5 separate regions of the Homo sapiens genome follow, and all the other regions are reported to be linked to region 2. Evidence: microRNA targets listed by miRTarBase, many of them from high-throughput screens and not tested one by one. Region 2 holds a microRNA gene; each other region holds the end of a gene's coding sequence.

Evidence for each region. Region 2 holds the annotated microRNA hsa-miR-519a-3p (AAAGUGCAUCCUUUUAGAGUGU, at 1,357-1,378, shown strand). A microRNA usually pairs through its seed, bases 2 to 8, with sites in the 3' UTR of a target mRNA and lowers its output. Matches are read on the target gene's strand: a 7mer-m8 pairs with bases 2 to 8, a 7mer-A1 pairs with bases 2 to 7 and ends in A, and an 8mer does both.
Region 1: miRTarBase lists PRPF4 as a target of hsa-miR-519a-3p. The part of its 3' UTR that is shown has no 7-base or 8-base seed match.
Region 3: the mRNA of SGMS1 is a reported target of hsa-miR-519a-3p. Seed matches in the 3' UTR shown: 7mer-m8 at 3,196-3,202.
Region 4: miRTarBase lists U2SURP as a target of hsa-miR-519a-3p. Seed matches in the 3' UTR shown: 7mer-m8 at 1,941-1,947.
Region 5: miRTarBase lists DAD1 as a target of hsa-miR-519a-3p. The part of its 3' UTR that is shown has no 7-base or 8-base seed match.

Annotation. Positions count from the first base shown.
Region 1 is chr9:113,290,450-113,296,665 of GRCh38, forward strand. It overlaps PRPF4 (pre-mRNA splicing tri-snRNP complex factor PRPF4), which reads left to right. Exons shown (of 14, transcript NM_001244926.2): 11 at 17-139; 12 at 251-358; 13 at 449-567; 14 at 1,018-2,456. The coding sequence ends at 1,211. Among named protein-coding and RNA genes, the nearest start is that of RNF183, 9.8 kb to the right of the region's middle.
Region 2 is chr19:53,761,041-53,767,056 of GRCh38, forward strand. MIR519A2 (microRNA 519a-2) reads left to right here and starts at 1,304; the gene lies at 1,304-1,390. It overlaps MIR516A2 (microRNA 516a-2), which reads left to right and starts at 93; the gene lies at 93-182. It overlaps LOC124904766 (a long non-coding RNA gene), which reads left to right. Exons shown (of 2, transcript XR_007067335.1): 2 at 2,556-3,159. It also overlaps the pseudogene RNU6-165P.
Region 3 is chr10:50,302,433-50,308,648 of GRCh38, forward strand. It overlaps SGMS1 (sphingomyelin synthase 1), which reads right to left. Exons shown (of 11, transcript NM_147156.4): 10 at 5,550-5,716; 11 at 3,168-4,889. The coding sequence ends at 4,710. Among named protein-coding and RNA genes, the nearest start is that of ASAH2, 54 kb to the left of the region's middle.
Region 4 is chr3:143,054,991-143,061,206 of GRCh38, forward strand. It overlaps U2SURP (U2 snRNP associated SURP domain containing), which reads left to right. Exons shown (of 28, transcript NM_001080415.2): 27 at 1-129; 28 at 1,322-5,735. The coding sequence ends at 1,460. Among named protein-coding and RNA genes, the nearest start is that of U2SURP, 57 kb to the left of the region's middle. RefSeq lists an enhancer at 6,160-6,216.
Region 5 is chr14:22,569,266-22,575,368 of GRCh38, reverse strand. It overlaps DAD1 (defender against cell death 1), which reads left to right. Exons shown (of 3, transcript NM_001344.4): 2 at 136-310. The coding sequence ends at 266. Among named protein-coding and RNA genes, the nearest start is that of LINC02332, 15 kb to the right of the region's middle. RefSeq lists an enhancer at 4,353-5,075.

The DNA.
Region 1 (6,216 bases), not on the chromosome of region 2:
TGTGATTTGGTTTTAGCTATGACCGTTCATGGCGCTTATGGGATTTGGAGGCTCAAGAGGAGATCCTGCATCAGGAAGGCCATAGCATGGGTGTGTATGACATTGCCTTCCATCAAGATGGCTCTTTGGCTGGCACTGGGTAAGGCTTCTCCCATGTAGTCAGGGGCAGTTCAGTACTCTCACCTCTTACCTATACCTGCTTCCACAGAGAACTGGATTCAAAGTGTTCATTTCTAAATTATTTTCTCAGGGGACTGGATGCATTTGGTCGAGTTTGGGACCTACGCACAGGACGTTGTATCATGTTCTTAGAAGGCCACCTGAAAGAAATCTATGGAATAAATTTCTCCCCCAATGGGTAAAATAAACACACTGAATGAGGGGCGAAAAAGGGTTCTGGGTCAGTAAGTACTCTATTTCTAACTTCAATACTGCATCCAATCCACAGCTATCACATTGCAACCGGCAGTGGTGACAACACCTGCAAAGTGTGGGACCTCCGACAGCGGCGTTGCGTCTACACCATCCCTGCTCATCAGAACTTAGTGACTGGTGTCAAGTTTGAGCGTAAGCTTTCCTCCTATTTTACGTCTAAATGACACAGACAAACAGTATTGTGTTCCCGTGGAATGCAGGCCAGGCTTTAGCTTAACTGAGCAGTAAAACAGGAGAGAAATTGACCTACTGGTAAAGGAGCAAATTATAATTTCCTTCCCTCTGCCATACCCTTAGATCTGTGGGAAAGCACGCTTCTCGTTGCAGGAAGTAAAGCAGACTTTCATGAGTGCTTTGCTTCATTCTTTCCTCCATGGATGCTCTGAGCACTGAGTCCTTAATATTATTCTGAATAGATTCTCGGTCAGGGAATGAGCCAAAAGACCTTACTGTTATTTGTTCCCTTAAGTCTGTAGAAACAAGTTTTTTTAAAAATAGTATGTTTTTGCAGACTTTTGTGCTTTTGTCTTCTCTTTTGAATACTTGAATTCCTCAAGCAATTCCCCTTCTCTTCTCCTGTAGCTATCCATGGGAACTTCTTGCTTACTGGTGCCTATGATAACACAGCCAAGATCTGGACGCACCCAGGCTGGTCCCCGCTGAAGACTCTGGCTGGCCACGAAGGCAAAGTGATGGGCCTAGATATTTCTTCCGATGGGCAGCTCATAGCCACTTGCTCATATGACAGGACCTTCAAGCTGTGGATGGCTGAATAGATGACAATGGGAAAAGGACTTGAACCTCAAGCTCTCTCTAAGGAGCTGTTTTCCTCAAACGAGAAGAATTGAAGTGTTTAGTTCTATCATGTTTTCTGCCAATTACCATGCATAGACCCTCAGTAGAATTGGATTTCCATGTCAGCCCCCACTCCAGGAAGGCAGCCCAATCCCTAGGTGATGGGGAACCCCTCTCACGGTTGAAAATTTATTACCTTTTTACGCCCTGCCACGAACTGTGTAGACATTGTTTTTATTAATCTTTTGTTTGGCCGGGCGTGGTGGCTCACGCCTGTAATCCTAGCACTTTGGGAGGCCGAGGTGGGTAGATCGCTTGAGCTCAGGAGTTCAAGACGAGCCTGGGCAACATGGCAAATGCCGTCTCTGCAAAAAAATACTAAAATTAGCTGGTCGCGGTGGCTTCTGCCTGTGATTCCGGCTACTTGGGAGGCTGAGGTGGGAGGGATTGCTTAAGCCTGGGAGGCAGAGGTTGCAGTGAGCCGAGATTGCGCCATTGCACTCTAGCCTGTGTGACAGAGCAAGACCCTGTCTCAAAAAAAAAAAAAATTTGTTCGAATGCCTTATAGCCTTCCTCACAGCACCCAGGATTGTGACTGACTCTGCATTTTTAATTCTTGAAACTTGGCTTTCCATAACATGGTACATGCTTCAGGACTACATATGACCCAGAGAGCAAGGTGGCTGAACTATAGTCTGGAAGCCCTCAGGTAAAGAGGCACATCTCACCACTCATTGGTTAAACAATGCATCATAGCGAGCACTTTTCCTTTCCCTGGAGAATGGGATGTGAAGCAGTAGACCGCAGCCACGCCGATGGTTATACAGTGAAGAAGACTTCACCTCTTCCTATTGAGTTTGCTTGGAATGCTGACAGCATCAGGCAACTCTGAACTGAACATTTGCTTTGTCAGAAAATATCTTTTTTTTTACTTTGAAGTTTGGCAACCTTCATGTTACCCCAAAGCAAAACCATTGTGTCAGGAGTCAAACAAATGTTTAGAAAGCAAACATGACGTCTCTATTGTACAACCTCCTTTCTCTTGGCTGTTTAAAGGATGTACTTCGTGTATTAAAGGGTACTTTATGTTGAAGTAACGAAAAAACCCTAATGGGTGTTCCTAAACCTAAACCTTTTCTTTATTCCACATTTGCTACGGTAAAATCCTGTTACAAAACTACCCTATAAAGAATTATTTTCTATAGTTAAGCATTTTCTGAATCCTAGCCATTGGTCCATAGAGGTCTCTTTTTTTTGGTTTGGGATATAATGGATGATCTCAAATATGGATTACTCTGATTTATGTCTCCTTAGCACCTTGTTAACAATTTTTTTTAAAATAGAAGGCTGTTTGCATTTTGGGCCAGACTGCCAGTAAGCCAGGCCTGGACTCAATTACAATTCTTAACTTGTCTGTCATGCACCTCTTTTCACCTCAACTATACAGCCTCTGAACTCTCAAATTACACAGTAAATTCAAAAAAATATATAGGAATTTGGAAGAAGAAAAGGTTGTCTACAGAGGAGAGTTATTAAAGAAAGGCTTCTTGGCCGGGCACGGTGGCTCACGTATGTAATCGCTTGAACCTGGGAGGCGGAGGTTGCAGTGAGCCAAGATCACACCGTTGTACTACAGCCTGGGCAACAGAGCAAGACTCCATCTCAAAAAAACTTAATTTGCTGTTGCAGAGAGGTTGACAATGGCTTTGGTCAGCTCTATTCTGTGGACCCTGAATGTGTGATATATAGCCAAACAACTGGTTTGTTTTGTTTCATTTTGAGACAGGGTCTCGCTTTGTCGCCGAGATTGGAGTGCAGTAGTGCGAACACAGCTCACCACAGCCTTGACTTCCTGTGCTCAAATGATTCTCCTGCCTCATCCCCTCATCCTGTGTAACTGGGATCACAGGAGGATGCCACCATGCCTAGCTAATTTTTTTGATTTTTTGGTAGAGACACGATTTCACTTTGTTGCCCAGGCCGGTCTCAAATTTCTGGGCTCATGCAATCCTGCCTTGGCCTCCCAAAATGCTGGGATTACAGGCATGAGTCACTGTGCCTGACCTAAACATACTGTTTTTAATCTGATTTCAATTATAACCAAATAGTTGCATTTCCTATGTAGTTGTTCAGCTTCTGAATTCTCAGGACTACCCTCTGTTGCTCACTTCACTATTGTTCAGGTATTAATGAATTCTATTTCATAGATTATGATGAAAAGAACTTTTTTTCTTCTTTGTAGTATGTGTAAAATAATGAAGAACACTGGTGAATTAGCATGCAATTGGATATAATGTGCTAACAAAGATTTTTAGTTTCTCAGGTTTAAATTTTGCTATTAGTTCCCTTCGACTTGTTTTTCTTTGTTTTTTGGTTGGTCCAAGAGGTAGCAGTTGGGTGAAAACATTTCATCCAAGCCTTTGACAGAACAAATACCTTGTGGGCTATTTCTTCACAGGAATTAAAACATCATTGTAAGAAAGTGGTTAAGAAGCACAAAGCCAGGTGTGGCATTTGTGAAAATGGCAAGATAAACAGCCACCGTTTCACAGAACACTTAGTCCCTACCTAGATGGTATACCAGGCACATTCAGATACCTTGTTTAATCCCCACAATCTTTTGAGTTTATTATTCCCTTTTTATGGACAAAACAGGCTCCAAAAACACTTGCTCAAGTTTAGCCAGCTAGCAAGTGATGGAGCTTGAATTTGAACTGTCATCTGACCATTGATGACCTTATGAAGGTTTCACAGGTTCCCCACACTGGCCAGACAAAAGGACCGGTACAGCCAGCATGGCCTGTTTCCTGTACGAAGTCTGAGCTTTTTAAGGACTCTCCACTTTGTATAATGCCCCCCACCCTTTTTTTTTTTTTTTTTTTTAAGAGATGGGATCTCAGCCGGGCGCAGTGGCTCACGCCTGTAATCCCAACACTTTGGTCAGGAGTTTGAGACCAGCCTGGCCAACATGGTGAAACCCCATCTCTACTAAATATACCAGAAATTAGTTGGGCGTAGTGGCAGGCACCTGTAATCCTAGCTACTCGGGAGGCTGAGACAGGAGAATCGCTTGAACCCGGGAGGGGGAGGTTGCACTTAGCCGGGATCGTGCCGTTGCACTCCAGCCTGGGTGACAAGAGTGAAACTCCATCTCAAAAAAAGATGAGATGAACTCCTAGGTTCAAATGATCATCCTGCTTCAGCCTCCTGAGTAACTGAGATACAGGCACGGGCCACCGTGCCCAGCTTGTATACTGCACTTTTGACAAGTCACTTCCATCTCTGAGCTCATGCCCATGTTAAAGTAACTCTCGCACATCCTGAACGGATGAGGAGCCTATTGTCAACAAGATAGCTATTTGCATTTTTGGTTAGATGATCTTTCATCCTGTGGAACTGGCAACATAAGCATTGCAGCAGGTGTTAGTATCCCAGACCTCTGAGCCCTAAATGTCAGCAGTGCAATTCACCCCCTCCACTGACTACAAAAGATGCTCCCATGCATTTCCAGATACATTCGAAGAGGATGGGACTGCCCCAAGCTAGAGCTACCGAATATGAAAACAGGAGACACCATGATGTTCAGGCAGCCCTCCCTCTCCATCAGCGGGTTCTAGGATTCAACCAACCATAGGTCGAAAATACACTACTGACCATATACAGACTTTTTTTCTTGTTATTATCCCCTACACAATACAGTATAGCAACTTCACATCGCATTTATATTGTATTAGGTATTGTAAGTAATCAACAGATGAATTAAAGTATAGAGGAGGATGTGTGTAGGTTATATGCAAACACTACATCATTTTATATCAGGGGCTTGAGCATCCTCGGATTCAGGTATCTTCAGGAGGTCCTGGGACCATTTCCCCCTGAATATCAAGGGATGACTGTATATCCTCACCTATCGGAAAAACCCTCAAACTTACATCTTGTCTTATTTGGGTGGTGTATCAACCACTCCAAGGATCTAAGTTCTTTTTTGACTGAAAAGACTCTACCACCTACTAGCTGGGTGGCCTTGAACAAGGTGGAGCCTCAGTTCCATCTGTAAACTGGGGATTAAGCTTGCTGAGGTTAGTAGGCCTAGTGCAGAGGCCAGTGTTCCTTCCTGGGCTTTTCTCAGTTTCTCCTGTCCTGAGCTGCCCTCGCCTGTCCGCTTAGCTCAGAGGACATGGTGAGATTATTGCCTAACTTATCTGCCACAAGTTTAAGGAGCAACACTGTGTAAAGAAATGAAGTCAATGGGGAAAGGTGGAGTCCCAGCTTTAGTGTAATTATCTTTGATGGCACAAATGGAGAGATAGTTGCTAGTCCCCTAAAGGAATATGTAGGCAGTTTTGCAACTTTGTAATGGAGACTTTTTCTTCATATTGGAGCTTAAACCGTTTGGTTTTTCTAAATGTGAAATATACGTATTGGATATTTTGGAGTATTTTGTACATTAAAACACCTGGGGGGAATCTAACATTATTTGGAGCAAATCAACCAACTCAAATTCTGGCCTCTGAACGCTTTTTCTGCTTATCAAAAAACCCCCAAAACCTCAAAATGTTATCCTTACATATTTGTGATGGTATCTTTTGTGTGTGATGGTATCGTTTTTTTTTTTTTCCTGAGACAGAGTTTCACTCTGCTGCCCAGGCTGGAGTGCAGTGGCGCAGTCTTGGCTCACTGCAACCTCTGTCTCCTGGGTTCAAGCAATTCTTCTGCCTCAGCCTCCTCAGTAGCTGGGATTACAGGCACGCGTCACCACGCCCAGCTAATCTTTGCTGGGGATTACAGGCGTGAGCCACCGCGCCCAGGCTGTGATGGTATCTTAACCACTTTAAAATTGTTTCAGAGCCTTGAGCCACCAGGCAAGGTTAAAACTGGGGAAACAGAAATCAGAGTTTTAGACACTGCAAGGTTGCAACTTACCAAGCAACAGCCTGAGCCCCCAAATTCTGTCTGATTGGTTCCTGGATTCTATCATGTAAAGTG
Region 2 (6,016 bases):
GGGCCAATAAATGCATCTTTATGTTTTCGTCCATTTTAACTTGATCTAGGAAAATTCCAAAAAAAAAAACCCACGGTGCTGGAGCAAGAAGATCTCAGGTTGTGACCTTCTCGAGGAAAGAAGCACTTTCTGTTGTCTGAAAGAAAAGAAAGTGCTTCCTTTCAGAGGGTTACGGTTTGAGAAAAGCAACGTCGAAGTTGACGCTGATCTTGGTAATACATTTGCAGAGCGTGCTGATCATCAGACATGGATAATGGTGGGGTTTTGTTTTTGTTTTATTTTTTTATCTAAGACAAGGTATCTGTTGCCCAGGCTGGAGTGCGGTGGCACTTCTAACCTAGATCTCTTGGGTTCAAGTGGCCCTCTTTTCGGGATAGAGTCTTCTTTGCTCTGTGGCCCTGGCTGGAGTGCAGTGGCAGGAACTCGGCTCACCGCAACCTCTGCCTCCTGGGTTCAAGCAATTCTCCTGCCTCAGCCTGTCGAGCAGCTGGGGTTACAGACATGTGCCACCACGCCTGGCTAATTTTTGCATTTTTATTGTCGATCGATTGATTGATTTTTGAGACAGAGTCTGGCTCTGTCACCCAGGCTGTCGGGCAGTGGTGCGATCTTGGCTCACTGCAACCTCCACCTCCCACCTCAGCCTCCTGAATACCTGTCTACAGGCATGCACAACCACACCTTGCTAACTTTTGTATTTTTTGTACAGATGAGGTTTCACCATGTTGCCCAGGCTGGTCTCGGACCCCTGAGCTCAAGTACTCCTCAAACCTGGGCCTCCTAAACTGCTGTGATTAATGGTGTGAGCCACCGTGCCCTACTCTTACTTGTGTGTTTCTGCTCAAATTTTATTAAGGAGCTTTTATGGCCTCGCCTGTGGTCTGTCCTGGAGGATGTTTGTGTGTGTGACAATGTATATTCTTCAACATCTTCGATTCCATTTTGGGTGCCTCCATGGGGACTGTGTGTCCCTGTACTGGAACGCAAGTGAAGACTTGGCTCAGAGTCCATTTGCTGTTCTCTAGAAATCCAGCCTAATCCTCTTGTGCAAATATAATATATATCTAGTAGGCATTGCTTTTTCTTTCTGGAGACAAAACACAGGAGGATTGCCCCTTGATGAACAGGACTAACCTGCTGATTCTTTGAAGCAAGGAACTGGAAATGGTCCTTTTAGGGATTTATGCTCTGGATTCCAGAAAACACGCAAACAGGGCCAATAAATGCATCTTTATTTTTGTGTCCATTTTGACCTGGTCAAGGAAGATTCCAACAAAAAATCCACAGTGCCGGAGCAAGAAGATCTCAGGCTGTGTCCCTCTACAGGGAAGCGCTTTCTGTTGTCTGAAAGAAAGGAAAGTGCATCCTTTTAGAGTGTTACTGTTTGAGAAAAGCAACGTTGAAGTTGATGCTGATTTTGGTAATACATTTGCAGAGCATGCTTATCATCAGACTTGGATGATGTTGGGTTCTGTTTTTGCTTTGTTTTTTTTTCCAAGACAGTGTGTTTGTTGCCCAGGCTGGAGTGCGGTGGTACTTCCCACCTAGATCTCTTGGGCTCAAGAGGTCTTTTTTTATTTTTCTTTCTCAAGAGAGAGTCTGGTGGTGACACCCAGGCTGGAGTGCAGTGGTGCATTATCAGCTCACTGCAGCCTTCCCCTCCCCGGTTCAAGTGATTCTTTCACCTCAGCCTCCCGAGTAGCTGGGATTACAGGTGTGGGCTACCACACCCGGCTAATTTTTGTATTTTTAGCAGAGACAGGGTTTTACCATGTTGGGGAGGCTGGTCTCAACTCCTGTCCTCAAGCGATCCACCTCCCTTGCCTCCCAAGTACTGAGATTACAGGCGTGAGCAACTGCGCCCGGCCTCAAGTGGTCCTCTTAAGTCAGCCTACCAAGTTTTGGGACTACATGGGGCATGCCACCACACTTGGCTAAGTTTTTAATTTTTTTTTTTTTTTTTTTTTTTTTTTTTGAGACGGAGTCTCACTCTGTCGCCCAGGCTGGAGTGCAGTGGCAAGATCTCGGCTCACTGCAAGCTCGGCCTCCGGGGTTCACGCCATTCTCCTGCCTCAGCCTCCCGAGTAGCTGGGACTACAGGTGCCCGCCACCACGCCTGGCTAGTTTTTTGTATTTTTAGTAGAGACGGGGTTTCACCCTGTTAGCTAGGATGGTCTCAATCTCCTGACCTCGTGATCCACCCGCCTCGGCCTCCCAAAGTGCTGGGATTACAGGCGTGAGCCACCGCGCCCGGCCGATAGTTTTTAATTTTTGATAGAAAGGGAATCTCTCTTGCCTAAGATGGTCTCAACTCCTGAGCTCAAGGGATCCTAAAGGTGTGAGCCGCCTTGTCCTGATGACCCATTTCAAACGTAGCTGACATGGCCAGGCATCATGGGGCACACAGTCCCAGCTACTGCAGAAGCCGGGGTGGGAGGGTCCTTTGATTTCCAGGCTATACCATGTGCTGATCACACTTTTGATCCCGAGTAGCTGGGATTACAGGCAGCCACCGCCAGGCCGGCTAATTTTTATTTATTTACTTATTTTTTCAGACGGTGTTTCCCTCTTGTTGCCCAGGCTGGAGTGCAATGGCATGATCTCGGATCACTGCAACCTCCACCTCCCTGGTTCAAGCGATTCTCCTGCCTCAGCCTCCCGAGCAGCTGGGATTACAGGCATGCATCACCACGCCCGGCTAATTCTTTGTATTTTTAGTAGAGATGGGATTTCTCCATGTTGGTCAGGCTGATCTTGAACTCCCAACCTTAGGTGATCCACCCACCTCGGCCTCCCAAAGTGCTGGGATTACAGGCATGAGCCATTGTGCCCGGCCCATTTCATTTATTTTTATGTGTGCTGCTGAAGCAAGCACTTATGTGTAGGAATTGTTCTTCCTGTGAGCATATGTTGGCCAGCCTGGACCACATACCAAGATCCCATCTCTTTAAAAACACAGATTACGTGGCACCTGGCACCTGGTCCCAGAGACTTCATTTGGGTTGGTCATTTGAAACACTAGCCTCCCATCAATTTAGTGTAATCAATCCAAATCATGTGTCCTTCATTAAGAGACTAAGAACGCCTCCACGTCTATCCAGTCTATTTTGTAATCCCCAACGGTTGTCAATATTAATAAAATTTCTTTTCTTTTTCCTATTCATTTGTGTCTTTAGTTTTTCTTCCCCAAAAACTTGCCATCATTTCTCGGAATAGACCTGCTTTCTCTGCAGGAAGGGTGTGGTTGATTCAACCCTTACCCACTAATGCCAACCCCAGTGAGTTCTTTTATCCTATTTTCTATGGGTAACGATTCCAAGGTACCATTCCACCGGGCAAAAGCTCACATCTAAGTGTCAGTTGCTCGGTAAGATGTGAAATGTTTGCTGTGGCTAATATAAGAAACAAACTATTGTAGACAAGATGAATCTCAGTGGCAGTGATAAATGTCGCACAAGACAAAACCACAGATCCTTTTTTTTTTTTTTTTTTTTTTTAGACAAAGTTTCACTCTTGTTGCCCAGGCTGGAGTGCAATGGTGCGATCTCGGCTCACTGCAACCTCCGCCTCCTGGAGGCGATTCAAGCGATTCTCCTGCCTCAGCCTCCCAAGTAGCTGGGATTACAGGCATGCACCACCACGCCCAGGTAATTTTGTATTTTTAGTAGAGACGGGGTTTCGCCATGCTGGTCAGGCTGGAACTCCTGACCTCAGATGATCCTCCCACCTCAGCCTCCCAAAGTGCTGGGATTACAGGCGTGAGCCACTGTGCCCGGCCAACCACAGATACTTTCACGAAAGCCTTTAGGGCCCTAGAAGGGGCTCCCTAGTAACAGGTGGGATGCGAGGCAGCTCTCGTTGTTGCCGTAGTGAGCGATGCCTGTTCGTCCAGCCCTCAACACCTTTTACTCCGTGGAAGTTATGCCTGCACTGGTTTACAGAACCTCCCTTGACTTGGGTTGAGGTAGAGCTGAAGGGAACCTCAGTGTCCCTTGCAGGTGGGATGTGCACTGCTTAGCAAGAGCACGGAGGTGGAGTGCATGGGCTTTGAGTTTTTATTGGGAAAATGAAGCTGAAATGTAGGGCGCATGACCACATCATAAATGCACATTTGATTTAATTTTTCTATTTTATTTTTATTTATTTATTTTGAGATGGAGCCTCGCTCTGTTGCCCAGGCTGGAGTGCACTGGCCTGATCTCGGCTCACTGCAACCTCCACCTCCCGGGTTCAAGCAATTATTGTGCCTCAGCCTCCCAGGTAGCTGGGATTACACGCATGCTTCCACGCCCGGCCGATTTTTGTATTTTTAGTAGAGACGGGGTTTCACCATGTTGGCCAGGCTGGTTTCAAAATCCTGACCTCAAGTGATCCGCCCGCCTCGGCCTCTCAAAGTCCTGAGATTACAGGCGTGAGCCACCATGACCAGCCTAATTTTTCTATTTTAGAGACAGTGGTCTAGCTATGCCACCCGGGCTAAACTAGGCTTTAGAGATCTTCCTGCCTCTGCCCCTCCACGGTCTCTGGTAGTTTGGACTACAAATGAACATTAGCATATTTGCAACCACCACCACTCTAGTTTGGAAGATTTTTATCACCCCAAAGAAGCTTATACCCATTTGCCTTCAGTACCCACCCCCCTCTTCCACTCAGACCCTGGCAACTACTCTACATCTCTCTAGCTCTGGATTTGCCTCTTGTGGGCATTTCACAAAAACCAGTCTTGAATGGGTGGCCTGTTGTGACCACTTTTAATATAATGGGTTGGTTCTGGTTGTCTGAAGTGTGAATCTTGCCAATGAAGGATGGTCCCTGGATGGAAGCAGGAGGCTGGGAGAACTGGGCGGAACATCCTTTCGGAATGGAGTGGGGTGGGCACACCCTGATGTCTGGGAAGCTCACAAGGGTGGAAGAACCCATCTTCCTCTCTGATAACTGCAAGGTGACCCTCCTGGGGCACTGGATGGAGTGAAGGCATCTGGACTGGGAACACCAGGGCATTGCACTGGTGCAGGCAGGATGAGCCGAGGGGAAAGGAGTGCCAGGCATCATTCTCTGGTGACAGTTTGGGTTTGATCTGGATGGAGCAGGTGTCTTCTGGTAGAGAGAGTCCCTGGGATTTTTGCTCTGCTCCTGGCTGTCTTTCAGTCATGGAATCTGATGACAAAGGCTCCCACTCTGGGCCACTTCATTTGGTTTCTGGAGCCCAGTGGTCCTTTCTGCCCGGACTCAGGATCTTTTGGGGAAATTTGGGACCTCGCAGGACATCTGCACAATCCATAGAAATCCCTGAGAGCCCCTTCCCTTTGCTGACATCTCCGTATTCCTACCTATTGCCTTCCAAAAAAAGACCCTTATCTGAATTGCCAAAGGGGGCTTCCCAGAGCAGGGAAACCCGGTTAAATTTGTATTTCAGATTAACAGCATATCTAGAATCTACTCGAACAAGAAGTGATTTGTTGTTTAAGTGTGAGAAATTTTTTTCCCCTAATTTTAAATACGGAACCCATCATGAATTTGGCTGTCACCTTTGCGCAGGGGCCGTGGGAACCTATCATTTCATTGTTTAATGTGTGCTGCCAAAGCAAGCACTTAAGTGTGGGAATTATTCTTCACGTGAGGATACAATAGATGGAACGTTATTACTTTTTTCTTTCATAATTGAGATTTTATTGGTTGAAGATCGGTACAGACATTTCAATTTGTACACAATTCTTAACATACGTACCGAAAATCTAAAAAGCCATGTATTGTAAATCGTTTTGTTTTGTTTTGTTTTTTTGAGACAGAGTTTCGCTCTTGTCACCCAGGCTGGAGCGCAATGACGCAATCTCGGCTCACCGCAACCTCCGCCTCCCGGGTTCAAGCAATTCTCCTGCCTCAGCCTCCCAAGTAGCTGGGATTACAGGCAAATGCCACCATGCCCGGCTAATTTTTGTATTTTTTTTTTTTTAAGTAGAGACAGGGCTTCTGCCTGTCGGTCAGGCTGGTCTCGAATTCCCGACCTCAGGTGATC
Region 3 (6,216 bases), not on the chromosome of region 2:
AAACAGTGGATTACAGTTAAAAGAGATACATGACACAGACCCTCTCTGAGGAGGACTACTTAGGGAAGCCCAAGTCAAAAGGGAGGGCCACAAATACAGCAGAAGAATTTGGAGCTAAGAACCAAAAGAAACTGCTAGAAATAGTCAACATCGTAACAGAAATGAAGAATGCCTTCGATGGGGTCATCATTAGAACAAACATGGCCAAGGAGAGTAGTATCAGTGAGCTTTAAGATATGTCAATAGAAACCTATCAAACTGAAAAAAGTGGGAGGCAAACATCCAAGAACTGTGGGACAATTTCAAAATGTGTAACTTATCATAACGGGAGTATCAGAAACAAAAGAAAGGGAAAGCAGAGAAGAAAGAAGTAATAATGGCTGACAACTTTTCGAAATTAATGACAGACACCAAACCACAGACCCAGGAAGCTCAGAGAACACCAAAAATAAATACCACCCTCACCAAAAAAAATCTACACCTATGCATTTCATATTCAATCTGTAGAAAGGCAAAGACAACGAGAAATTTTTGAAAGAAGTCAGAGAAAAAACATATTACCTATAGAAGAAAAGAATAAAATTATGGCAGACTTCTTGTGAGAAACTAGGTAAGCCAGAAGAAAGTGGAGTGAAATATTTAAAATGTTGAAAGAAAAAAGCCAGCCAACCTGCCCTGCAAGAAATGGGAAGTTCTTCAGGCAAAATGAAAATGATGTTGGTTAGAAGCTTGAACTACATAAGAAGAGCATCAGAGAATAAATAAGTGAAGATGAACAAAATCTTTACTTGTTCTTAATTGATCTGTAAGGTAATTGCTTGTTCAAAGTAATAAATGTAATAATGTGTTGAGTGATTATACCATATGGATAAGTCAAATGAATGACATCAATGTTCTAAGGGCAGAAATGAGAAATTGGGAATGTGTTGTTATAAAATGCCTACACTACACTTGAAGGCAGGCTTGTATTTGGAAAAAAGTTTATATTGTAAACTCTAGGGCAACCATTTAAAAATTCGTAAAAAGAATAACTGGTATGATAAGAGATAAAATAGAATCATAAATTGTTCAAAACTAAAGGAAGACAGAAAAAGGAAGGGATGAAGAGAGGACAAATGCAACAAACAGAAAAGAGTTACAAACATGATAGATATTCATTCAGTTATATCAACTATCACTTTAAATGTGAAAGGTCATTTAATTTCCTTCTGACTTGTACTGTAAACTAGGAGATGGATAAGTATTTTAAGGTGCTGATAAGCAGAATACCAAGTCAACAGCTTTGATTTGTTCAAATTGTTTCTTGACTACAGGGAGAAAAAAAAATAAAGGATGTCAATATCTAGTGATCCAAGCAACATATTGTTTTCTAGTAAATTCAGAAATCTGGTTGACTTTTTGTATATTGGTGGTCAAATTAAGGTTGGCATGCATTTCCATTGTATGAGGTATTATGAGATATTTATCACATTGATCAAAATTTGGCATGTGCTTGGGATACAAATAAAACATATAGCAATTAGGAAATCAGTCAAATTTTCCTCTCACACCTTATGGTGTAAATTTCTTGCTCCTCAGTCCATGGTGAGAGTATGCTTTACCACCATAGGCATAGGTTTCTCTCACTGCAGACTCTTACTGAAGAGTTTATGAAAGCTCACAGTATTGATGGGGGAGGGGGGAAACTTGGCTTCCAATAGGACTTTTACCAGTTACCAGTTGCATGCCCTTGGGCAAGTTATTTAATATATCTGAGTCACTTTGGTTGGTCTATCTGTAAAATGGCAATAATAATTACACTTTGTGGATGTGTGAGGGTTAACTAATACATGTAAAATGTCTAACTTAAGTGAGCCAAAAAAAAAAAAAAAAAGACATTGAGAAAGCACATGTCCTTATACAGGCAATCCTTACCAAGTGTACAATGATACTCTAGAATACAATGAGCTTTCTCCTTGTCCTTCCTGGGATTTGCACACTAGAGACCCAGAAGATATGTCAATTCATGAATCAGTGTAGTCAGCCATGAAGAACAATCAGCAGTGGATTTCTTGATACATATGTGGCATGTAAACTCATAACAAATTTTTATATAATGATTTCTAGTTTTTTAGGGAAAAAATCCTATTTTTAGCAAGTGCCAATATATCATTTCCACTTACTCAATTTACTTTCCCTTCAATATGGCAGCAGCTGATAGTCAAAGTTAGTGAAAGGCTATAACAGTTAAATAAAGACCTATCCAAGGGTTTGGCTCTATTTGCCTAAAGAGGCCACCACATTTCCCCTGTCTGATACACAAGTTTAAAGCCCCACACAGGAAAAGTTTTACTGGTTCTAATTTCCTTTTTTTTTTTTTTCGGAGATAGAGTTTCACTCTTTTGCTGGGGCTGGAGTGCAGTGGCACGGTCATGGCTCACTGCAGCCTCTGTCTCCCGGCCTCAAGCGCTCCTCCCACCTGTCTCCTGAGAGGCTGGGACCACAGGCATGTATCACCGTGCCAGGTTAATTTTTGTATTTTTTGTAGAAACTGGGTTTCATATTGATCAGGCTGGTCTTAATCTCCTGGGTTCAAGTGATCAGCCCACCTCGGCTTCCCAAAGTGCCGGAATTACAGGCGTGAGCCACCACACCTGGCCTCTGGTTTTACATTTCTAGCCTCCTTAACACATCCTTTATCAAAGACACATCTCCACTGTTGACATTTTCCTTTAGTCACCACATCAGAAATAATAATAACCTTTTATTCTTTTTAAATAGTTATTTTCCATTACCACTGGTTTATCATAGTACTATTACTCTATTTCTCACTTTGGATTTACTTTTCCTTTCCATCTACACTGGAGAAGCTATATTACTGCCAGATATAGGAAAAAAAACAATTTGGTTGAGAATTAGAGAATTCAAAATGTTAGTAAACATTGTTCTAAAGTTTGAATTTAACTTACATGTGACTCTTTTTATATATTAAAAAACTCTCTAGAATTTACTAAAGATTAGAATATATTTTAAGGAATCCCAAGGAAAAAAATCCAGATAATTATTAAAAGTCCCATGTCAAGCAGAAACACTCCATGAAGAAATTCTGAAACTGATTTTCTATCTTGCTTTAATGGCTCCATTTATGACTTCTGTGAAGAATGTGAACACAGTAGAAATAACAGCCATTTATTTTAAGTATCAGTTTTTATTAAAAAGTGCATTTTGATTAATTTATGATCTAGGTAAGCTGTAAGATACCAGTATACTCTCTGGAATAATAACTTTACAAAGATTTAAAACAAACAAAATTTTAAAAGCCTTTTTATTTCCTTCACCATTATTGTTTTACAATACAAATATCACCTTGTGAATACACAAAAAAATCCTACGGAAGATAATTCTGCTGCACGTAAAATACAGAATGGATATATATACTTCTTCATTCTTAAAAAACTATTTTGTTCTCCACATTGGCAAGTATAGAATAGAATACTTCCCCAAACATATGTATGTTAGGAGTAAAACTTAGAGTTACATGCAGTTTCTGCACAAATATCTTTTAAAGAAATAGATCTCTTTTTTGTTGTTCACCAACAAAATTGTCATGAGAGTATGGATAACTAATTCATAGCTTTCAAGTTTTAGGTAAGTGATCATTTTCAAAACTCTCTTTAAGAAAAGATATTCATGGCTGTTTTCATTGAGTAGTTAAAATTGAACTACCAAATCGACGATAAAATAATTTAAGTGGTACATGTCATTGCTACCTGATCACAATATGTGAACAGGCTCTGACTCTAATTAACAACCTCATTATTTAAGTCATTGCAATTTTAAAACCATAAGCAGTCTTCTGATTCAATTTAGCTATAAATGCAAAATTTAGTAGTGTATACATATATTTATATTTTCAAGGAATACTTTATTTTAAATAAAAACATTTAAGATTGCCTACTGACCATACAATCAAGACAAGAAAGGCACTAGAAACATAGACAAATTTCTCTCCCAAGATGCATTTTTAAATTTTAACTCTCTTCTCTCTGACATGTTAAAAATCTTTAAATTTGGTGTTCATAACATCATTTTGAAAAATAAAGTTAGGAAATACTTAGAAAATCACTTTATAACAGAATCTTTTTTTTTGCACTTTTTGAAACACTGCCTTTGCTGATTTTACAAAACCCAAAGTTACCAAACCTTTCTGTGTCTATCATTTTTATTTGAATATCGGTGCAACAGGTAGAAAGATTTCAGAATCAAACCCCATTCAGGTACTTAGAAACCTTCATAGAGACATTTGCTAGAAAATGGCTTACAGCCCAATCTTTGGGGCAAGAGATATGAAAAGTATGTTTTCCCAAGAAAATAATACGCTTTATTTCCAGATGTGACTGGAAAGACCAGAACTTATGATATAAAAGCTTACATTTATGCTGCTGCATCATATACAAAGGAACATGGTGGTTGCGGGTTATGTAAATCCCAAACTTATGAACAGGAAATGTGTACAGTGCATGATAGGTTAAATTTTTCTTTATTGTTGTCCAACGCAGGTCCTTTGGAGAGAAAAAAAGATCACAGTGCTGACCAGGTAACTCAATAGGTTAAGTCAAGGTAACCATTGAAAGATAATAGGATTAGGGAGGTGTTTATTTTATGGCATCTTCTCTCATGGAGTTCTTAGCACTTCGGACAATTTGTCTTTTCCCCACTTTGTACAGCTGTTATGTGTCATTCACCAGCCGGCTGTATTTAACTTGCCTACTGAGGTGGACTACTGGCCAGGGGAAAGGCCAATGGTAAGATCGAGGTACAATTCCTTGGACATTCTTTTCAAAGTACTGAAATGGCCTGTACCACCACACCCTGGCCAGGAGGTTCATCTGGGAAGCTTCCTTTAGCACCTAGGATAACAAAGAAACATAAACACATTTCTTACAATCTTTCACTTTAAGTTCAAATACTTGCCACGCTAAAATTCCCAAAGGACTCCATACCTGCCCTGCGTGTCCACCCACATATCCCAGCTTCTCTCTCTCATCACCATTCTACACTCCACATTCATCTACAAACTGAGCCACATCCCAGTAGAAAAACAACGCCAATTCTGGGAGGGCAAGGAGAACTTATGGCTCACTCATCTCTTGCTTATAAATAAACACCTCAGTTAGCTTTTTAGGTATTCCTCTTCTATGCTAAAAATGTTAACACTTAATTAAATGTTAAATATTAAGCTTGTGATGTGCCCCGGGTAGGGAGAAGAGGATAGGAAAGCAAATCAAGCAAGGAGGGACACAAGCTTAGAAAATATTTTTCATTTTTCAAGGACAATGAAAGTGCGTTCCTTATTCTAGAAGGAAGTAATTCCTCACATCATTATATTAATAAACTTTTTATTCTTAATTCTGAAGAGAATCAATGTCACAAAAAAACAATACAATCTTAGTTGATTACTACTTAAGAAAGAGAAACTTCAGACATCCACAGGTTCTTTGCACCCTGTCCAAGCCAGCAACATCAAGCCAGAAACAACAGAAGCTAAAATCAAAAGCGGGGAAACTCACTTGCTGATTGGCCATAGTGTGATACCACCAGAAGAGTCTCGTGGTGATGTAATATGCCACCACCACGTCCACAGTGTAGTGGTCATGCGCTAAGAGAATACAGAAGATTCCAACTACGCTGAGAAGCCAGCAAATCCAGTGATACCACCAGAGTCGCCGAGGGGAATCTGAAAGGGGGAGAGATTTGCAATAGTCCCATTATTCAAATGACATTAAGGGCACCCAACTATGCCTCTACTAATGCTTCTGAATCCAATTACCTTGAGTCTTCCCTTCTGAAAACAGATCTAGTGAATCTAAGGGCTGTCATTTATCTGTAACCAAGGTTAGAACAGAAACAGCTTTTTATGATGTGATTATACTAGTGATAGTAATTCATATTTGGTTCTTACTTGATTCATACAATCATAAATAGAGTTTAAAAGATGAGGCTAATCAAATAAGGACAGGTTAATGCATCATGTTTCGTTTTTAAAAACTGTCCATTGACATTTAAATTTACCTCTAGCTAATTTGGGGTTGATGCTCTACACAAAAATCAATACCTTTTGGCCCACAGAGCCTAATACAAGGACTAAGCAGTCATAACTGATTTAACTGTACTGCTTTCCAAGTTCTGCAACCATACACTAATCTGAAAGTCTTTGAGATTTTCATTTCTCAAATA
Region 4 (6,216 bases), not on the chromosome of region 2:
TAGACGAGTGAAATCCCCATCACCAAAATCGGAGCGATCAGAGCGTTCAGAAAGATCTCATAAAGAGAGCTCACGGTCCAGGTCATCTCACAAAGATTCTCCTAGAGATGTTAGCAAAAAAGCCAAAAGGTAAATGCAAGTCATTTTTGCTAATATTTCAGATACCAGTTTCCTTGTCATTTCATCAGCTTTTGAAAATAATTTGGTTGGCATACATTTTTTTTTTTTTTTAAGGATTTTAGAAAACCAAAGAGATACACTTTCATTTTTGGTTATTCCTCCCCACCTCCTCATCCCAATCTCTTTCATGACTGAAGTGAAGGCTTCCAACAAGTGAGGACCAGCCAAGAATTTTAAACATCATATCCAATGTTTTCTGTGGAATAGGGTTAGCTGCTTTACTTTTCGTTCTGTTCTTTAGTTTCTATAGAATATTATTTGATTTTTGTCAAAGCTGAAAGAAACACACATTTTTCCCCCATAGCAATATTATTAGCAAGTTCTTGGGTAGATATTTTTGGAAATACATATCATGAATACCATTTTTTCAGTATGTATTTTAGTATTTTGTATACTTTTTTTTCCTTTAGTTCCAGAAAAATGGTTCAGAAATGTTTTATTTATCTGGTGATACATAGAGGAATTTTCCTGAGAGCTAAAACTGCTTTGTATGCTAATACTTTATTATTGTAACTATTTTTAGTAAAATCTTTACAGAATAGATACCTTTCTCCTTTTCTAAATGGCACCTGTATATATATGTATGTATGTGTTATATATGTATGTATATGTACATGTATCTTTATTGGTTTAAGTAATCCTTCATGAACAGCACTTACAAAATTATGTCTTAAATGATGCCCTTGAATGATACTGCAGTAGTTGTTTGCTTCAGGATGATAAACTTCAAAGCTGCTGTGTTTTTTAAATTTTGTGCATGATCTTAGGTGCAACTTTGAACTTTATCTTGTAGATTAAAGGTTCAAATTTGGGGGTTATCAGTCACTTATGGAGCTTGTTAAAAATGCAAATTCTTAGTTCCATCCTCCAGAGATTTTGATTCAGTAGAGCAGTGATAAGGCACAGAAATCTGTCTTTATAAACAAGCGCTCTACTGATGATCATTGATGCAGTGCATAGTAAGTACAAAATAATCTGTGTGTGTGTGTGTACAATAGAGTTTAAATTTTAGAAGTTCATAGTCTTATTGCAGTGATTTTTCACTGTGCCCTGTTAAAGATCATTTTCGATCGTTTAAGGATAAACAGTTTTGATCACATGAGTACTTTATCAATTGGGATTTTTTTGTTTGTTTCCTTAGATCACCATCTGGTTCAAGGACACCTAAAAGGTCTAGGCGATCACGGTCTAGATCTCCTAAAAAATCAGGAAAGAAGTCCAGATCCCAGTCCAGATCTCCACACAGGTCTCATAAAAAGTCAAAGAAAAACAAACACTGACGTAAATTTTTAAGATGCTGTCACTTATTGGAAATGCGATTTGTTTTGTGCCTGAACGGTCTGTTTTTTAAAAAAACAAAAAATCAAATGAAAGAGCATTCCTGGGGTTTTTTGTTTGTTTGTGTATGCATGTGTAAACTCATGAGCAACTGCATCTGTAGATCTGTCATTGTTTTATATTGTGTAAATTACTTTCATTGTGGCTATTTCTCAAGATGAAATTTTTATTGTTCTAATGGATTTCATCAGAAATGTGTATAATGGATCTGCTGACAGTAGTAGTATTTTGTTTTAGGATGTTGTGACTTAGCAAAAATAATACAGATGTCTTCCCCCCTTTTGTAGCTTTGACAATTTGAATTAGATTTCAAATAAAATCTGAACAGAAAACTATAATGTTGTTTTTTTGCCCCACCGGTGATATTAAGTCCCTTAAAGTCCTACTGAGTTTCACACTACTGTTGTGCTTCTTATACCTGATGCACTTTATAAGCCCCAGTGTTCAAGTAGCTTAAGTTTTATATTTACTAAGATGACTATCCAAATTAAGGGACCTGAGACTCCTATTTGGTGGTTTGCTAACCATTTGCTTTTGATAAGTTTCTCTTGGGTAATACTAATACCCAGATATCAAAGACTAGGTAGATATGGCATGGCGTTTTGTTAGTGGAATGCCTGGCTAAAACATTTTTTTCACAGAAGCAATATGATTTCCATACATCCAACCCATGTTCTGAGCAACTACTTACTTTTAGGGGGAAATTAAATATCTTTTCATTTCCTCTTCTATTATGAAAGAAGTTTATTTGTAAAACAAATTTTCTAACAAGGTTTGGCCATAGAATTCTCTTGTATGATCGTTGACCTTTTATAATCTTCTGTAGGCTATCTTTCAAACACTGGCATCAGAATATTTTTTATAAGTTTGTGTTTAAACAGCTTAGTTGGTCCCCCCCCACTCCCAAGAGACTTGGGTTTAGTTATAGCTTTAAGTAAAATTTAAAAATAAAATGTTTTTCAGGAAACTTCGTATCTAATGGTTTGTAAATTCAAGGTGCAAAAAGTTGATTTAAACCATTTGCAGAGTTGAACTCTATTATGAAAATAAATTTGCTACGGTATGAGGAAGAAATAAAACTTGTGTAATGTTGGTCATAATACTGCTATAAATATAATAAAGGGTTATGTAGAATTGAACTGACACTATTATTTGTGAATCTTGATTTCAGTTTTTTATGTAGGCACTTCATACACTGGTTTGATGGGTTTTTTTTTTCCTCCCTAAAAGAGAAAGTAGAAAACTATTCTAACAATGGATTATTTTGATTTAGCTTGCTTTTTAAAAAAATCTTTTCAACTTGTTTTACTTAATCTTGCCTAGTCACAAAATAAGATGTGCACCCATGGTTTGGAGAGTTCCTATATTAGCTGAGCAGTGAGATACACTATTTCCAAACGGTGCACACCTACAGTAGCTTTGGAAATGAGCCAATCACTGTTTTACTTAATGGTTCTTATCAGCATGCAAATATTGCTTGAAAGTTATTTCCTTATTCACTGTTTTGTTAGTCCATTTTGTTAGGAAACATTAATTCCTAAAAATTTGTTCAGAATAATTAAAAGTGAACATTTGGTGCTGATACTCAAAAACCTACAAATGTAGCCATTTAAAAAGTAACATGTTTTTCTCCCCTGCTCATTGCCTGGGAGAATGGAATTTTATATAACTACCTTTCTTTGCAAAAATAACGGTCGTGTCGAGTTGGTGGTGATTTTGGCATTCCATCTTGCACTGGTTTCTAGTATAGGCTTAGAAATAATTGGTCAGGTAATAATCTTTCCAGTCAAGTTGCAAGGGATGCTTATTTCTCTTCAAAAAAAGACATCCTGCGGGATTGAGTAGAAAATTTTAGGTCAGTTTTGGGTGCTTATTTGTAATATTTTTCCTACTACATTGGAGTTTAGCAGTTCTTTTTTTCTGGATCCAGATACAAGTGTCATGGTTTATCTTACAGTGGGTGAAACTGACTTTCTTTTGGTTGGGTGGGTGAGGATTTCTTAGGCCTGATAGAATATATATTCTGTGAAGTTTGTTAATGTACATATTAGATTGTATTGGATTTTTTTTTCTTGAATTGCAAATGGTATTATTAGATAGGTTATTTCCAGTTTTACTTCATGACAAATTACCTAGAGTAAACCTACTTAATACTCCCATGGATTCTATGAAAGTTTAATGGGATCAGAAATTGGTGACTTATAAGGGGGAAGATATTCTACCATATTTTTATAATAGCTTATTATTCATGTTTCTTGTCTGAAGGACACTCAAGTTACAGAGCAAAATTTCTATAGGTTGACTAGAATGTTCATAAGCATGGTCTTCCAGTTGCAGGAAAGATCATGTTCTATCTGTGGACACTTACTGTCCTCTACCACAGCTACGTGCCAGAGTTGTTTTCCACAGTTCTTATAAAGGGCATGACTTAGGCTCTTTACCCTCCAACTTAATGTTTATACACAGGGATTGTTTACTAGGTTAATGACATTTAACTCCCCTCTCTTCTGTAGGTGAGAGAAAATAAGTAAGTCTTGATCTGTTTCTTACCAAAGAGAGACAGACCTATGATGGAAAATGATCACGTCTCTGAATTTTTTCTTTAACGTTATAGTTCCTTATTACAGATAGTAAGCATATGGGAATTTCTGAGCTATAACATGTTGAGAAGTTAGAAATTAAAACTAACACAACAAAAGGCGCTGAATCAAAAGATCTTTGCTTTTATTTGGCTCAGAATGTTTTTGGCTTTTCTGCTAAAGATGGCAGAAATTACTCTACACAGACCTGATTTTTCTTTATTGCAGACCATTCTTGTGGGCTTACCCTGAGACTTTTATCCCAATTAGTGAATCTTGGAGGGAATACTTGCTTATTTATGACTTAGGTATTTCCCCCCAAACTTTAATATTCTTGAGCACTTGAAAATACTTTTGAGAAATTTTAACTGTGATTAAATTTAGGTTTATTAGAAATATTCTGTACACATTTGCCTCCATGGTGGCGTAAGTTCTGAAAAATTATATGACCGTGACAATAGTTTATCATCATCATTATTGTTATTCAAAATAAGGGTAAATAAATCTCTGTATTGCCAAAGTGACTTAAACTGTTCTGATGACCACACAGTGTGATTTCTTTAGCAGAGAAAGTTGGTTTTAAAAATAAATAGTACCACTTTTCTAAGACTGTACAGTTTACAAATAAGGTTTTTTTCTTTGTTGTTTTCCTCTTCTATTAAGTTTTAGTGAAAAGCCTAATTACAGAAAATTGTGCAGATACTAGTGAAGATACTAGTATAAGTTTAAAGGAACACGTGACTGTAAAATCTCACATTTACAAAGTGCTTGATCTCTTCATATTTCACACGCATGTTTTAGAATAGATTTTAGGGAGTGTTTAATTCATTATCCTTTTGACTTAAAATTTTTGTTACCAACTTCCTAGGACTTAGATAATATATAAATAAGTACAAATCCCAGGGGAAGTGTTGTGATGCTAGACTAAAAGGTGGGAATGTGCTGCTGTTCCGTGAGCCTTGTTCCATTGTTGAAAATTTGATGCCTCAGTGTTTATTCAGTACCACCTCATGGAGCTTCAATGTAAATGGATTATATGTATAATTGGTAATTTGTATAGTTTTGTAGATTGTAGATTAAATGCACTCATCATGTCACATGTAATTGTGCTTGGAGTATTTGTGTTTTATTCTTTTACTTCAACGGGTTCTTGTCTGTTACATCTCTGGTGATTTGAAATATCAGGAAAGACAGTTTGTCAGAAATGAGAATAATATAGTTGAAATCAGTTGGGCTAAAATATTCTACAGCAAGACAATTTCTTTTGGGTGAACTGATTCTATAATTTACTTACTTTTAATGTAAGGATTAGATTTATTGTTGAGCTGCTTTCCAGATCAGACTGTCACTTTATAGTTTTTCTACATAAAGATTATATAGTTGCAAACAAAGGTTGTGAAATTTCCCTTTTGTTGTTTTTGACTTTTAATTAATAAAAGTACATTGTTTTCATAGCAAACTTAGACTGTCCATGTAATTTTCTCCATATTGTTTTTCCGATGCAAGCCCAGTTAATAATTAGTTTTTTAGCAGCTTTCTCTCAAGTGAAATAAGTGATGTGACATGTTTATCAGTTATGGCTAAAATGTTACACTTTACATGTTTAAACTATAATCATATGTTTTCATGCTAGATGGTTCTCTTGGTTAGGAAAGTTCATTTCCTTATTGGTTTCCTTTTTTAAAAGTTATTTTATTCTGTTTAATTGAGGAAAATTTTAAACATTCTACAAAAGTAAAATAGTACAGTGAACCTTACATACCATAAACATGCAGATAACAACTTACATGTATCTCTAAATACTTTGTTTTTAAAACATACCTGCAGTGTCATTGTCACATTAACAAATCATTGGGTCCTTTTAAAAAATGACATTTAGTTATTTTAATTGTGAGAAGATGCTCATAACAAAATTTACCTCTTAACAAAGTGGTGTTAGGTATACTCATATGATTACGCAATTTCCAGAACTTTTTTTGTGTTGCAAAATTGAAACTCTGTACCCATTAAACAACTCATTTCCCTCTTCCTCCCCTGTCTCTCAGTATCATCATTCTACTTTCTGTTTCTGAATTTGACTACTCTAGATACAACATATAAGTGAAATCATACAGTATTT
Region 5 (6,103 bases), not on the chromosome of region 2:
TATGCCCTTTGATGTATATATGCATTCATTTCTGTTAGAGTAGAATTGTTGGGTCCTCGGGTATGTCTGTGTTCATTAGCATATTTATTTTATACTTCTATATAATCATTTTTTTGTGTTTTGCTTCTTGTGCAGTTTGCCTGAGAATACAGATCAACCCACAGAACAAAGCGGATTTCCAAGGCATCTCCCCAGAGCGAGCCTTTGCTGATTTTCTCTTTGCCAGCACCATCCTGCACCTTGTTGTCATGAACTTTGTTGGCTGAATCATTCTCATTTACTTAATTGAGGAGTAGGAGACTAAAAGAATGTAAGTGATGATCATAGTCCTTGTCCTATAATGTTGATTTTAGGAAGAGAAATTGGATGGGACTGGTTTTGATCATGGTTGGCCAGGCTCCCATACTGCTATTGACATTTGCAGAATTTTCCATTGGTCTGCAAAGTATGCATTAATATCATCATAATTCATCAGTGCTACTGCTCTTGGTCATTGCCTTGTCTTTCTGTTCTTCAAATCATTAAGGTAATAGAAAATTAATGTTTGTAGCTAGTACAATAATTTCTGTACCAATAACTCCACGAAAATAACTCGGAGATTTTGGAAGAGACATAAATGGTAGGTTTTGCCTTTAGATTTGTTAGTTAATTTTTTTCTGATTTTGATCTCAGATGACTTTTAATGCTGGACCATTGTTTTCATAGCACTTAAATTTGATAGCATCCAGTGTATGTTGGATGAATGACTGTGGGCATTTGCTAATATGTGCCTTAAAGTAGAAATAAATGGGGAAATTGGGTTAACTTGGGAGAAGACTTTAAAATATAAGATGGGATGCTGCTTGGTTCATTTGCCATTTTCACTTTTTTAGCAGTAGAGTTCTTTCTCCCTTCTCCCAAACAAACTCTTACAAAAAGAATCTTGGTATATAAAGCAGAAGTAGAATTGGAGTTTTTTTTGATGGACAGAAATTGAAAAGCCCTCTCTGCTTGGCCTTCATCACATATGGTACGCCCTCCCCTAAATCGCTCCCTCCCAAGCAGAGTTCTAAAGCTTTAATAAATATATGGCTGTTTTCCATACCGTATGTCAACACTGTTACTTTATATATGAGACAACAGAGGCCTAGAACAATCCATTGGCCTTCCCTGGCCACATAGTTAAGTGTTTGCAGTGAAGTGCCCTAGTCTAGCGGTGTTCTTGGCCCCGTACTCCTTCCGGTATCCCATGTAGCTTACTGATGAATGCATGCAATCTTTGCCTTTGCATTGCAAAATGTAATGTTCTGGGTGGTAGAGAAAAGAGAACCTTAGGAGATCTCATCCTATTTGGGGGAAGGATATCCTAGGACCAACCTCTTCCTGTCACCACTTGGAAAGCTGTCATTTTTATACTAACCAGCAGAAATCTAGTATAAGAGTTAGAGCATCTATGTGCAAAGTGGATGCAATAATGTGGAAGTGACTATACTTCCTTTTCTGACATGAATTAGTCATTTACTTATAATATGTTACCTAAATCCTTTCCTTTGATACTGCCTCAAAAACAGTTCTGTTAGTTCAGGTAAGGTATCATTTTGGTAGTGGTAAGTTGACAGTGAGGTTTATTTCAGTGAAAAACTTTTTTTTTTTCTTTTCTGTTTTTTTTTTTTTTTTTTTGAGATGGAGTCTCGCTCTGTTACCCAGGCTGGAGTGCAGTGGTGCGATCTCGGCTCACTGCAGACTCCGCCTCCCGAGTTCATGCCATTCTCCTGCCTCAGCCTCCCGAGTAGCTGGGACTACAGGCGCCCGCCACCACGCCCGGCTAATTTTTTGTATTTTTAGTAGAGACGGAGTTTCACCGTGTTAGGATGATCTCGATCTCCTGACCTGGTGATCCGCCCGCCTTGGCCTCCCAACAGTGAAAAACTTTTAAGAACCACTTTGTTCTGTTATTTTAATACAATTTAACTCATTAGACACCTGATTAAGACTTGAGTTATCCTCTTCCTCCCTTCCTCCCTCCCCTTCTATGTGCCAGCCAATGTCTTGTTGTTGGGAATATAAACAATATTGTTGGCTGGGCGTGGTGGTTCATGCCTATAATCCCAGCACTTTCGGAAGGCGAGGTGGGCGATTGCTTGAGCTCAAGAATTTGAGACCAGCATGGGCAACATAGCAAGACCCTATCTCAATTAAAAAAAAAAACCCAAAAGTGTGGCTTCTGCCTTCAAGACATGTACAGTCTAGTAGGGGAGAATACGTAAACATAACAGTTAAAATACAGCCCATTTAGGGCCTCGCTATAGGTTTGAACAAAGTGCTGCAAAAATCCAGAGAAGAGAGCAGCTGTACCATCTGGGAGCAGGGACAGCAGATGAGTTATCTGAGCAATGGATAACAGCTATTGCTAGTTAAAATGAACTGTTACCAGTGGATAACCTTGAATGCAGGTAGAAAACTGACCCACCAACATTGACCTTCTCACGCTTGCAAATATGAGTAACCCTTGGGCTTCCTGATAGAGCCTTCTGGAAAGGTCATGTCTTCTGATTGCTTACTCTAGATTTCTGAAGTTCTTTTTTTCTAGATGAGTCATGGTGTGTACTTAGGAAGGGGACACAGCAAACATTTCAAGGATGTTTTCTAGGCTCAGGGAGATACCAAATCATGGAAAATTATTTCTTAGGGCTGTCATGATTGGAGGAAGACTCTACTGCAGAGAGCTTAGTATTTCAAAATTATGACAAAAGCAAAGACAAAAAAGCAGTCTCAGCAGAAACTGTGTACTGCAGACCATATTAACAACCTAGGACCACCTGCTCAGCTGGGAATTATGGGCCCAAAGCATAGCAAAATCCTCAATCCCAGATTGCAGTGTTAAATCTTTCTATGGAGAGTATGTTCATAGAAAAATCTTTCTCTCTGGGGGATTGCCCAGATTGTTTTTCATAGAGATCCTTCATTTGAATTATACTATACTGTCCTGCTCTCAGTTTTTAAAAATATACATTTATTTGCTCCTTTTATGTGCTTCTAACTCAGCTATATGTGCACTGTGCCACAGCACTTTAAAAATAGTTCCAAGTAAATTCTCAATATTTATACCAGCTCAGAAGGTAGAACAAAACAGATTGAATGTCTTTATATTTTCCAACTAAGTTGAGAGTTTGATATTAAAAAAAAAATTCTGTAATATAGCTGATCTTACATGAATTTGGGGGTGACAAACTCTAACCTACTCTGAAAGAGGCAGGTCAAAAGAAAATGGCATTGGGTTAAAAAAATAAACAATTCAAGGGGAAGTAAGGAAGTTAACAGATAATGAGTGCTCAGTGTGTGCTATGCTTTAAGTACTTCTTGTTCTATATCATTTTATTTTCAGAATAATTTCACGAGGATAGGCTTGCTGTTCTCATTTACAGATGAGGAACTGAAGTTGAGAGAGCCTGGCTAGGATGGCTGAGCACGGTGGCTGATGCCTGTAATCCCAGCATTTTGGGAGGCCGAGGTGGGTGGATCACCTGAGGTCAGGAGTTTGAGACCAGCCTGGCCAACATGGTGAAACCTCGTCTCTACTAAAAAGACAAAAATTAGCTGGGCGTGGTGGCCGGTGCCTGTAATCCCAGCTACTCGGGAGGCTAAGGCAGGAGAATCGTTTGAACCCATGAGGCGGAGGTTGCAGTGAGCCCGAATTGCACCATTGCACTCCAGCCTGGCAAGAGTAAGACTCTGTTTTCTAAAAAAAAAAAAAAAAAAAAAAAGAGCCCCTTGCTAGAAATCTTACAACTAATGTATCTATCCAGGTGATCAAGAAAGACTCAATATTTTTTATTTTTTAGACTATACAAATGAAAATACAAAAGCAAAAATTCTCCCAGTGAGCTTCTGACCCCCAGAAATCCATGCACACCTGAAATGATCAGTTTTTGTTGTGTAGGTGGCGGCATATTTTTGAATGAATCCATGACAGAAAGAAGCTCAGTGGATTTCAGTATTTAAAAATGTATATACTTTAGTTTTTTCCATGTTTGTTCTTCTGTGTTTCTTTGTGAAATTCTTTTTTTTTTTTTTTTGAGACAGAGTCTTACTGTCTTGCCCAGGCTAGAGTGCAGTGGTGCAGTCTTGGCTCACTGCAACCCTGCCTCCCGGGTTCAAGCAATTCTCCTGCCGCAGCCTCCCCGAGTAGCTGGGACTACAGGCACTTGCCCGGCTAGTTTTTGTATTTTTAGTAGAGATGGGGTTTCACTCTGTTGGCTAGGCTGGTGTTGAACTCCTGTCCTCGTGATCCACTCGCCTTGGCCTCCCAAAGTGCTGGGATTACAGGCGTGAGCCACTGCACCTGGCCTGTGAAACTCTTTTTTAAAAAAAAAAAAAAAAATCTCAGTCCATCTCAGGTGTTCTGAAGGGTAATGAGGAAAAGAAGGACAGAACTGTATTGGATCACAGTTTGAGAATTAAAGTTCCTGATGAATTGGGCCCTGGGTCAGAAGGAAGGGTGAACTGGGCCCAAAGGGACAAAACCTTGCTTGAAAATGTGCTCAGCTCCCAGGGAGATAGTTGCCAAATGCCTGTGCCTTGTTAGCATTGTTTTGTTTTTATAATGGAGACCATTCTCTCACAAGTCTTAAAAAATTCAGTGTTTGATCCTAGCTGGAACAAGGGGGCTACAGGGTTGGGCAGAACATTTTAAACTCTGACTGGCAGCACTGTTTACAAACATGAAATTATGTTGGCTTTTCGAATTCAGTTAAAGTATAGTAATCTAGAAAATTACCTCGGGAAGGGGAACTTGATGTTATTCTGTGGGCTTTGCTGCCACCTAGTGGATGGTATGTTTCATGTGTTGAGCGGCTACTACAAAACATGAGGAGTTGAGTTTGGGGGAAGAAGCTACTGATACCTGTGTTAAAAAACCTAGTTTCTTTCCAGTCATTGGGGGGCAGCAGAGGTCCAGGAGGGTTTAGATGCTGGGTTGGGGGTTGCTTTACATTCTGGCCAGAAGTGGGCAATGTCGAGTTAGGAACAAAAGGGCATAGAACCCTAAAGTGGCCCTAGATTTTGTTGTGTGGGGGAAGACCAAGACTGTGCACATAGACCCGCAGGTTTCCCGTTTGATTTCTTTTTTTCACCTCCTTAGTTTGAGAGCTTCTTTTTTTGGTTTGTTCTACGTCTTTTATTCTCAATGGTGACCTCCCACGCAATAATCTTTAATTTTTTGTTGGTGGAGGGGCCCATTTAGTTTTTATTTCATTTTCTCTTTGATATTTCCACCTTATATTGAATTAGGTCCTGCCGCCAAATAAGCTCTCTCAGAGGGAACTGTCCTACATTTGTAGGAAATCTGAGGTAGTCACATCATAACTTTTTTCAACTCATTTTTCTCTGTTTAGAAGGTGAGATTAATTATATATTTTTTTATGTGCTGGGGTCTCGCTACGTTGCCCAAGCTGGGAACTCCCTGGGGTCAAGTGATCCTCCTGCCTGAGGCTTCTGTGTAGCTGGACCTACAGGTGTGTCACAGTGCCTGGCTCTGAGATTAGTTCTTTACCTTTCATTCTTAAAACTTTGAATCTACTTATTTTATTTGCTAAAAAGTGCTAATTGATGACTTTACTTGTTTATTGAACTCTATTTTATATTTGGTGTATTTAAGGCTACCAAAGAAAAAAGAATATCGAAATAGATTTATATTTATGAATTTCATTGCTGCCCTAACTTACTGCCTTATTTTCTCCATCCTCCCAGCTTGGATGACTCCTATTCCAAGTCATTCCCACCCCTCAGGTTGCATAGGAGCCCTTAGTCTACTGCATTCCTCCAGTGCTGCACTTATCACATTGTTATGAAACTATTCATTCACTTTCTTCTCTCTCCCACTGGACTCAATTGTGAACAGTAACAGTGTGTGTTTGTTGAATGAGTGTATGAATGAATAAACCTTTTTTTTTTTTTTTGAGACGGAGTCTCGCTTTGTTGTCCAGGCTGTAGTGCAGTGGCATGATCTTGGCTCACTATAACCTCCGCCTCCTGGGTTTAAGCAGTTCTCCTGCCTCAGCCTCTTGAGTAGCTGGGACTACAAGTGTGTGCTCCCACGCCTGGCTAATTTTTGTATTTTTAGGAG